Regions from separate parts of the Homo sapiens genome. Here region 2 is linked to region 1. Evidence: fine-mapped expression QTL. A gene starts in region 1. The other region holds a variant in brackets. All regions are shown on one strand. Distances are from middle to middle. Region 1 holds the start of ZFP28 (ZFP28 zinc finger protein). Region 2 overlaps ZNF583 (zinc finger protein 583).

Region 1 (5,245 bases):
GAGCCAATCATGACAAGGCTTCCGGACTGAGTAACTGAGAGGATGAAACGGCCACTGACTAAGACTCAAACTGTGGGAGGAGCTGGTTTATGGGAGACTCTCAGGACTTCGGGTCTGGACAGGCTGTCTTGAGTTACCCATCAGACACTCAGGCAGAGGAGTGGAGCAGGATACACAGGCCGGCGGCTCAGAGGAGAGGTTTGGGCTCACAATGTGAATCTGGGAGGAGCCACCATGTGGGTAGGTTGTACAGACAAGGAACAGGCTACTATCCCCAGGAGACAGCATGCAGACAAAAAAAGAAAGGGCCATGAGCAGAGTGCTGAGGCACACTCTGTTCAAGTCACGGAGGTAAGAACTGTGGCAAAAACTGAGCAGTCAGGAAGATGAAAGTCAGATGAGTGTGAGATCCCAGTAGCCAAGGGAAAAAAGGGGGCCTATTGAAGGACAGGGATGAGCTATTTGAGGGATAGGTAGCCACCTGTTTTGTAACTGAAGTTTTACTGGAACACAGCCCATCCATTCATTTACATATTGTCTTTGGCTACTTTAGCTCTATAAGAGCAGAAAGGAGTAGATGCAGCAGGACTTTCAAAGCCTAACATATTTTCTGCTGTGGCCTCATCCAGCACAAGTTTGCCAGCCTCTGAGCTATTTCAAATACCAATGATAGTCAAAAAAGACTAAGAATTGAGCACTGCATCTGGTAATGTGAAGATCACAGTAACCCACTCAAGAGCAGTTTGGGTAGGACAACTGGAAGCTGGTTCATCTGTACATATATTTTTTGAGGCCTCAGTGGAAGTGAAATGGTTCATCTATTAATGAGCTAGCTATGATATTTATAGGAGAAGCCAACCGAAACAAACACAACTATTTACTGGCATGTTTTAAAGCCACAAAATCAAGTGGAAAAGCCTTTCATATTGCGCCTCCTCTCCCTAAAATGTTGTCTTTCTTTACTGTGCCTCCCAAACATCTTCTCTCCCTTCAAGGCAAGGCTCAAAAATCACCTCCTTGGTAAATAGGCCTACCCTTCCGCTACAGGAGGCTGGAAGCCAGGAGCGCCTTGTAGTCCTCGCTCATAATACTTGGCCCAAGGATGATCACATTCTAGAATCTTGCTTGTTTCCTTGACATTGGGTCAACAGGCTGTGAGCTCCAGAGCAGGGACTAGGGCTTAGCTATTGGTTTGCTCAGTGGCTGGCACAAAGTGGTCACCAAACAAACCATGTATAGCAGAAGAGTCTGCCGTGTTCCTCAAGGGGCACAATTCCTCCATCAGAGTCCCTCTGAGAAAAGCGGTACAAGGGAGAGGCTGAATCATTTCATCAATCAAGAATGAAGGCTGATTGGGATGAAGAAGAAGCAGGCATCGAGGCCCCGGGCAGTTTAAACTTTTCCCCGTAGCCCATCACTTCACTAGAACGTGAAGAAATAGAAACCCGCGCCCAAACAGGTCTCTTAAACTGAAAACTTTCAAGAAAATAAGCAACATTAAGTCCCGAAAAGCAAGACTGCATTTCAGAGACAAGAGATGAAATGCCAACTCACCTGGGACATGGCTTTAGGTTCAATTCCTGTCCCCACAGCCTCCAGCTTCTTGTTTCTCTCCTGGGGAAGAGCAGTGTCCCTGGAAGGCAGAGCTGAAAGAGAAAGGAGTAGCTAGAGACCAGGTCTACACCACAGTCCCAAATCACCAGCCTAGAAACGTCCCTTCCTGCATGAAAAGGTGGGATCAGATCATTACCCTGCCTAGGGACTGCCACAACGTGGAGATAGGTTTTTTTCCTCCCTGGGAGCACGAAAACAGGAAAAGCGTCTAGTTAGAGTCACCCTGGGAAAGTCAACACCCTTTTACCGCGGCTTGCTGCTCTGAATCAGTTGAGCTTCCAAATCTTCAGATTCTCCCACTCCACCAGCTTCAAAGACCAGGGGCACAGTTCTCCAGCAACTGGTCCCCGAGAGCCCAACCCCCTCCCAGATCTCATCCCGAGATGAATTCGTCCCTGTCCGCTCGGCCCCAAACACCTGTCACTCTCACCTCTGTGCCCAGGCCCCGTAGGGGCCGCTCCTCGCTGGCCTTTGGATGCGAGGCCATTCCTTGAGCGCGGCCTTCCCCGGGCAGGGAGGGCCAAGGTGGCTGGAGTCCCTACAGTCGGGCCTCGGCCCGCCCGGGGCTTTGTGCGGGGGGCGCCTCTACCCGGGAGCGGCGTCGGCTCGCGGACACTCGCGCTCGCCGCCCCCCGCATGTCACCCGAGGCCGCGCGACGCCCTTCCGACCGGTCCCTCACAGACCCACACCCCTGGCCACACCCGCCCGCCACGCCCAGCGAACAGCCCCGCGCGCGCTCCCCCATGGCCCGGCATCCACTGGGCCGCGCCGCGGAGCCGCCCCGCCCCCGGCCGCGCCCCGCCCCTCCCCACCCCTCCCCGCTGCCCCGCCCCGCCCCGCCCCGCCCCGCCCCGCCCCGCCCCGCCCCGCCCCGCCCCGCCCCGCCCCTCAGCCTAGAGAAGCCCGGCGCTTCCCACTTCCAGTGCGCAGGCAGCGCCGCCGGAACCGGGCGTGGCCTCGGCGCAATGCCCGCTGGGAAGCGTAGTCCCAAGCAGGGACGGATGCGGCGGCCCTCGGAGCTCAGGTTGCAAGATACGGTTTGGCCCCGGGCCTATGCAACGCCCGTCCGTCCTGCCCTCTGCGGGTCGCTCTCACTTGTCCCTGGACCGCAGCCGCCGCATAAGTGGTGGCCAACGCTGGGCCTGGGTGTGGCCGGAAGCAGAGGCCGCTCTGACTACACACCCACCCCCCAAAGGCTTCTGGGAGTCGCGCAGGCGCAGCGGCAGACCGGGTGAGGCGGGGCTTGCGGCGAGGGGTGGGACCGCAGGGCCGGAGTAAAAGGGTGCTTGGCTGTGACAGGTGCTAAGGGCCTGGGCGTCAGCTCCTTGCGGGAGCGTCACTGCCGACCGGGAAGGGAAAGGCAATCTTGGGGGCCTCCGGAGTCCGGAGGATCACTCTGATGGGTGATGTGTGTGGGCTAGGAAGGGGGATGTAGAGAGCTTGTGGGATTGTTTTGGGTGCCCCCTCACCTTCTCCCATTATCTCTGGCTACACGGGCCTCCCATCCTCCAAAATACCATTTTCCATTTTGTAACCTATGTATTTGCACGTCCTGGGTCGAAATAGTCTAACCCCAAATTTTCGTCTGGGCTGGCTCCTTTATGCCATTCACTTGTCATCGCCTCAGAGAGGGCTGCCTAACGTCTCAAAAATACCAGCCCTGGCGACCTCTTAAAGTTCCCTTCCTGTGTGAATCACGGTCTGAAGTTAGCTGATGGATTTATTCTTGAACATGTTTAGGACCGGTCTCTCCCCCAGGGGCCTTATCAGAACTGGAGAGCTTCATCCTGGGAGCCAAGGGCCTTGCTGGCTCACAGGCAGTGATGCTGTTACACCAGTCATCACAGATGCACTGACCTCTGCACGCCCAGTCACACTGCACGCCTGGTCTCCTTACTCTTGAATTGATTTCTTTCAGGTCTCCTGGCCTCAGTGATGGAATTAAGATGACTTCTATCTCTGAATCCAAGGGTGACTGAAAGCCGCAAGCTGCAGAAAGGACAAGGTCAGCATTTCTCTCAAAGCACTTCAGTCTCATAGAAAAGGCTTAGTTTCAGTCAGGTGGACCTAGCCATGTAATAGCTGTGGCAGACACTGCTAATGGTCTCTCTGGTGTCTATTTTGCACTCCTTCCACAGCAGAACATTGATGCTCTTCAAGTGGCCATCTGCCCAGCTTATAATACTCACCTCCCCAGTCTCCTTGTAAGGAGTAGTGGCTCTGTAACCAATGAATTTTAAGTACACATTTGCTGGGGGTTTGGTGGATGTGTGGAAAGAGACACAGCTGGCATGTAACTCTGGCCTTTTGTCATCTCACACAACCTTCTTCCTGCTTGGGTATGACACAGGATGTCAACAGGTAGAACAGCTGTAGAGAGCTGGCAAAGGGATCGTGGCCAACTCAACATTCCACTGGAGGCTATATGATCAAACAGCAAACTGTTTATCATGAATGCAGAATGTGGGCAAAGTCGCTTCTGCTCCAGCCACCAGAAGGTTTGCTGAAGGCAATCACTCCCTGGTGTCATGCTCCTTGAGGTTATCTAATGGGACATCTAGAGCCTATTGGTTGACGAATGCAGTCTTGCAAGCCTGCTGTAAATCAAGCTACTGACCGACAACCACCCCCCTTCTCCCTATTCACTCTAATAAATACGAAGGGCTGTAAAGGCTCAGGGCCTGTGTTCACTGGAAGCAAGGAGCCCCCAGACCTCTTCTTCCAAATATACTCTTTTGTCTTTGTCTTTATTCCCATGTTTGTCATCCTTTGTTCAGTCCAACAAGGATAGGGTCCGCTGCAAACAGCCACCTTGGCATCATGAGGATGAAAGTTATGCTAAAGATGGCTTAGCAGAAAAAAAGAGAAATAAACAATCAAAGAAATGGTATTAGAAATGAAAAAGTGGACATAATCACAGAAATTTTTAGAATTTTGCAAATACTGTGATCACCTTATCTCAATATATTTAAAACATATGCAGGGGCTTACCATAGAGAAAATTATAAGTACCAAAACTGACTCAAGAAGAAATGGAAAATCATTAAATAAGTTCTCAGGCTTTTCCATGAATACCAAAGCAATAAATAATCCTTATCCTATAAAACTATACTGGAGAATTTAAAACTAGACACCCTTGATACCAAAACTGGACAAGGACAGTAGGGAAAGAATTTAAGTAGGGAAAGAATTCCAATCTTCAGGGACAACATACACATTAAAATCCTACCTAAAGTGACAATAAACAAAGTCCAGCAATACATAGAAAAATATGTCATGTCCAAGGAAGATATGTCAGAATACTTTCATGTTCTGGAATGTAGAGGCATCACCTATGTGGATAAAGACAGCATCCTGAGTTGATGGAGAAATGGCATAGAAGGAACCAGGTCCTTTGATGACATCATGGAGCAAAGCTGTCTTCTTGCCTTGACCTGCTACCTACCTACATGGGAAGCTGTTACTTGAGAAGGCAATAAAATCTATCTTCTTTATTGACAGAGTTGACAATACCTTTTTTATCTTATTGTAGCAGTCACTTATCCTCAAATGACTGCTATATCCTATTTTCCTATTATATGGGGCTATATGCGTCCTTGTTCATATTTAGCAGAGAAGCAACAGAAGCAC
Region 2 (5,245 bases), 120 kb after region 1:
GATCACTTCATTTTTCTGCTTAAGATTTTCCTGTTTCTTACTACATTTAGAATAAAGTGAAAATTCCTACCTTGGTTTATGAAACTCTACATGACCTGGTGTTCTCTGATCTTATCTTCTACTACTCCCTTGCTTGCTTACTCCACTTCAGTCATATGGGAATTCACTTTATTTCCACTTTAGGAGCACCAGACTTGCTGTTTCTCTGCCTGAAAAGCACTTTCCACAGATATCTGCTTGATCCCTTCTCTCATTGCACTTCTTCACTTGAGGTTCTGTTCACATATTACCTCTTCAGTATGGCCTTTGCCGAACATCCAATATGAAGTATTCCACACTCTTATGTTTCTCTTTCCTCCTGCTTTGCACTTCATAGCACTTAACTTATTTAATATCATATTACATGTTAACTTACTCTCTATTCTTATTAGAATGTAAACATTCATGTGCAGGAAGTTTTTTTCTCACCCTTGAACACCCATTGCCTAAAATAGCCTGGACAGATAGAAGGTGCTTAGTATCTTTGGAATAAATACTGAATCAATAAGACATAAAACACCACACTAATTCATCCTCTTATTAGAATGACATGCTTGCATGAATGGGGTAAATGTCTGAAACCAAATGGAATATTACCACTAAACTTAAATATTACAGTGGATAATGATATTTGGAAGGAAAAGAATCTGAAGGCAACATACTTAAATTGAGGCTGCTAATTCCGCTGTGCTGCCTCAGTGCCCTTCCAAATTCCACTTTCCTCTCTAAACAGTTGCAAATCACACCCATGAATGCCCTATAAAAAGTCAACATGAAAATTAAATTCTGAAGACTGATGGGTCAAAAAAGAAATATGAAATGACTGCCAAGGAGCAATGATCTAATTAAACCCAGAATTAAGTTGATAAAACTATAATAAGGAAGTAAAAACACTAATTCTCATTAGACTGAAAAGTTAAGGATAGATATTATAATCGTTACAGGCATGATTCTTACATTTTAGAGTGTATCAGAATTAGATAAAACTTGCTAAACTACAGATTGCTATACCCCACACACAGAGTTTTTGATTGAGTTAGTGGAGGTTGAGGGCTGAGAATCTTCGTTTCTAATAAATTCACAGGTGGTGCTGCTGGTCTCAAGACGACATTTTGAGCATCATTGCACTATAGCACCCACTGGAAGCATAATATAAAAAGGTACAACAAGCCAGCAGATAAAATAAAATGGAATTATAAAAAATATTCAAACATCCCAAAAGAAGATAGAGATGAGCAAATATTTTTTAATGAGAAATATTAAAGAGAAAACAATAGTAGACTCAACTCAAATTATATAAATAATTAAATATTAATGAACTCCTTATTCAGTTAAAAGGCAGAACTTATAGGAATCAACAAAATGAAAGACACAATTATATGCTGTTTATAGAAACCTCACATTACATATAAGAATACATTAATAATACAGATAAAGAAAGATGTAACATGCAAACAGTAAGCATAAGGCTAGATTAACTATATTCACGTCAGATAAAATAGACTTTAAAACTGAGTATTACCAAAGATAGAGACGTATAGTAATAAAAGGATCAATTCATCAGAAAGAAATAATCTTTAATGTCTGTGCACCTAATATAACGCCTCAAAATACATAAAACAAAAATTGAAAGTGTAAGAAATAGGTAATCCTATAGTCATAATAGGCAACTAACACATGCTTTGCTCAGAAACTGACAAAACTAGGAAAAAATAGTAACAAAGAGGATCTCAACAGGGTTAACTACTTTGATCTAATTTATATTTATACAACACTACACCAAACACTTGTACAACATGTATTCGAGTGCACACAATGTGTTCAGTAAATAAGATAGACTATATTCTGGGGCATAAACCAAGTCTCCATAAATCCCAAAGTACCGAAACCAAGATGAGTATGCTCTCTAACCTCAACAGAGGTTAGAGGTTATTGATTTTTAAATCAATAATACCTAGTCAACTCCAAACATCTGAGAACTAAACACATTTCTATATAAATCATGGGTCAGAGTATACAAGAGAAATTAGAAAATATCTTGGTTGATAATGACAGTACAACATATCAAAATCTGTGGGATACAGCTAAAATGGTACTTAAAGGAAAAATCTACAGTTTTCAAATGCTTATGTTAGAAAACAACTAAAAGTCTAAAAATCAATAATCTAAGATGTCACCTCAAGAAGTGAGGAAAAGACCAAAGTAAACTTAAGGAAAGTAGAAGAAAAAGTTAAGAAAGAAAATTAACAATATAGAAAAACAACAACAGAGGAAATAAAACAAAAGTAGGTTCTTTTAAAACATCAGTTATCAAGAAAAAAAGAACAGATATCAGCAACACCAGAGGAGTTATCATTACATAGCCTACAGCTGTTTTTTAAAAACATTAATAAATTGAAAAACTCAGATGAAACACAGAAATCTCTTGAAAGACACAGCCTACCAAAGCTGATTCAACAAAAATCAGATAACCTGATTAACCCTATATCCATTAAAGCTGTTATGTAAAAAATACTTCAGGCCCAGATGTCTTCATTGGTGAATTCTATCAAATATTTAAAGAAGAAATAATACCATTTTATTCAAACTGTCAGAAAATAGAGAAAGATAAACACTTTCCAACTTGTTTTCATAAGGCCAGTATTATCTTGATACCAAAACCAGATAAAAAAATTATAAGAAAGTAAACCCGCAGGCTGGGCGTGGTGGCTCACGCCTGTAATCCCAGCACTTTGGGAGGCCGAGGCAGGTGGATCACGAGGACAAGAATCGAGACCATCCTGGCCAACATCATGAAAC[C/T]CCATCTCTACTAAAAAATACAAAAATTAGCTGGGCATGGTGGCGCATGCCTGTAGTCCTAGCTACTCGGGAGGCTGAGGCAGGAGAATCGCTTGAACCCGGGAGGTGGAGGTTGCAGTGAGCTGAGATTGAGCCACTGCACTCCAGCCTGGTGACAGAGCAAGACTCCATCTCAAAAAAAAAAAAAAAAAAAGTAAACCTGCAGACCAATGTAGCACATGTACATAAGGCAAAATCTTTAATAAAACTGTGCAAATGAAATCTAGGAAAATATTAACAGCATGATCTTGACCAAGTAGAGTTTATCCCAAAAATGCAAGATTGGTTTCACATTTGAAAATCAATCAATGTAATTCACCATATTAAAAGGTTAAAGAGAAAAAAAATCACATGATCATTTCAACAGATGTAGAAATAGTATCTGATCCATTTATTATAAAAATTATCAGCAAACCAGGAATAGAAAGTAACGTTTTCAAACTGATCAAGGACATCTAAGAAAAACTGACAGCTTACACTGACTTAATAGTAAAAGACAGAATACGTTTTCCCTTAAGATTGAAACAGCACAAGTACATTTCCTCTTACCCCTTCAATTACACATTATATAGGAGGTCCTAGCCATTGCAATATATCAAGAAAAATAAGGTATAAGGATCAGAAGGAAAAAAAAACTGTATTTGTAGATAGCATGATTGTCCATCCAAAAAATCCTCATGGACCTACAAAATAACTGTGAGGGCAACCATTAAATGAATCTAGCGAGGTCATAAGATGTAAAGCTAATATAAAAATCAATTTACATTTCTGCCTACTAGTGGCAAACTATTAGAAAACTGAATTGTTAAAAAAAATTCTATTTATTATAGCACTCAAAAAACTATTACAGACTTAGGAAAAAAAATTTAACAGAGTACCACTACACTGGATACTGCAAAATATTCTTAAGATAAATTTTATTATTTTTCCTTTTTCTTTTTCAGACAGAGTCTTGCTATGTTGTCCAGGCTAGTCTCCAAGTTCTGGACTCAAGCAATCCTTCCAAATCAGCCCCCCAAGTAGCTGAGATTACCAGCGCACACCATTACACCCAACTTCAAGACATTTTTAAAGACTAATAAATGGCTTAATAAACCATACTTATATTAGAAGACTCAATGTTAAGAGGTCAGTTTTTTTCAATTGACATACAGAATCAATGTAATCCCAACAAAAATCTAAGTTTTTTGAGCAGAAATTCTCAACTTCATTCTAAAATTTATATGAAATGCAAATGATCTAAAACAGTCAAGGCAATTTTACAAATTGCTCTATCTGGTATCAAAACTTACTACAAAGCTACAGTAATCAAGGCAGTATGGAACTGGTGAGACAATAGACATATAGATCAATGGAACAGAAGACATTCCAGAACCATACCCACACATATGTGGTCAAGTAATGATCAGGAAAAGTAGCAAGGTGATAGGTGATAGAATTAGGAAGGGAAAGTCTTTCCTGACAAAGGGTCTTGGGGCAACTGTATATCCATATGGAAAAAAAAATGAACCTCAACCTTTACCTCACACAAGACACATAAATTAGCTCAAAATCATTCACAGAGCTAAATATAAATGCTAAAACCTTAAAACTCCTAGAAAAATATCTCTGTGACCTGGGAGTAGCAAGAATTTCTTAGATATAAGAAGCACCAACCAAGACAAATTAATAAATTGGATTTTACAAAAACTGCAAACTTTGCCTCCAACAGAGGTGGCAGCAGAAAAACAAAAAGGCAAGCCATAATTGGCATACATATAAGCCAATACATATAAATGATAAAGAACTTGTTTTAAGACTATATACAGAACTCTTACAAATCATAAGATAAACAATCCAATAAAACATGGGAAAAATGTTTGAACAAAGTTTTCATAAAAGTTATATGCATGGCCAGTAAACATATGAAAAGAGGCTCAACATTATTAGTCATTCCAGAAATGCATATTAAAACCACAATACAACCTTTAGAATGACTAAAATTAAAAATACTACTGACGATACCAAGATTTGGTGAGAATGTGGATTAACTGGAAGTCTCATACACTGCTAGAAGAATGGTATAATTCCTTCAGAAAACTGACAGTTTCTAACAGAGTTAAACATATACCTATCATATAACTCAGTTCTTCCATCTTAAGTATTTACCCCCCAAAAATAAAAATATATGTTCACACAAAGTCCTGTACATGACAGCTGCATAGCAACTTTATTTATAATAGCCCCAAACTGGAAACAACCCAAATGTCCATCACCAGGTGAATGGATAAATGAAATGTTGCATTCATACATGCAACAATACAGATAAATTTCAAGATGATTATCCTGAGTGAAATAAGCCAGACATAACAAAATACATACTGAATGA

Evidence for each region. PIP is the estimated chance that this variant, and not a neighbour inherited with it, causes the effect.
Region 2: its variant is fine-mapped to the expression of ZFP28 in lung (TOPMed, PIP above 0.99). The same link has a PIP of 0.9 or more in nucleus accumbens.

The regions. Positions count from the first base shown.
Region 1 is chr19:56,536,026-56,541,270 of GRCh38, reverse strand. It overlaps ZFP28 (ZFP28 zinc finger protein), which reads right to left and starts at 2,323. Exons shown (of 8, transcript NM_020828.2): 1 at 2,045-2,323; 2 at 1,555-1,646. The coding sequence starts at 2,252. It overlaps ZFP28-DT (ZFP28 divergent transcript), which reads left to right and starts at 2,537. Exons shown (of 3, transcript NR_183967.1): 1 at 2,537-2,846; 2 at 3,534-3,620; 3 at 4,939-5,115.
Region 2 is chr19:56,416,982-56,422,226 of GRCh38, reverse strand. All of the region lies in intron 4 of ZNF583 (zinc finger protein 583), which reads right to left. Among named protein-coding and RNA genes, the nearest start is that of ZNF583, 15 kb to the right of the region's middle. The variant C/T (reference allele first, on the strand shown) is at 2,839.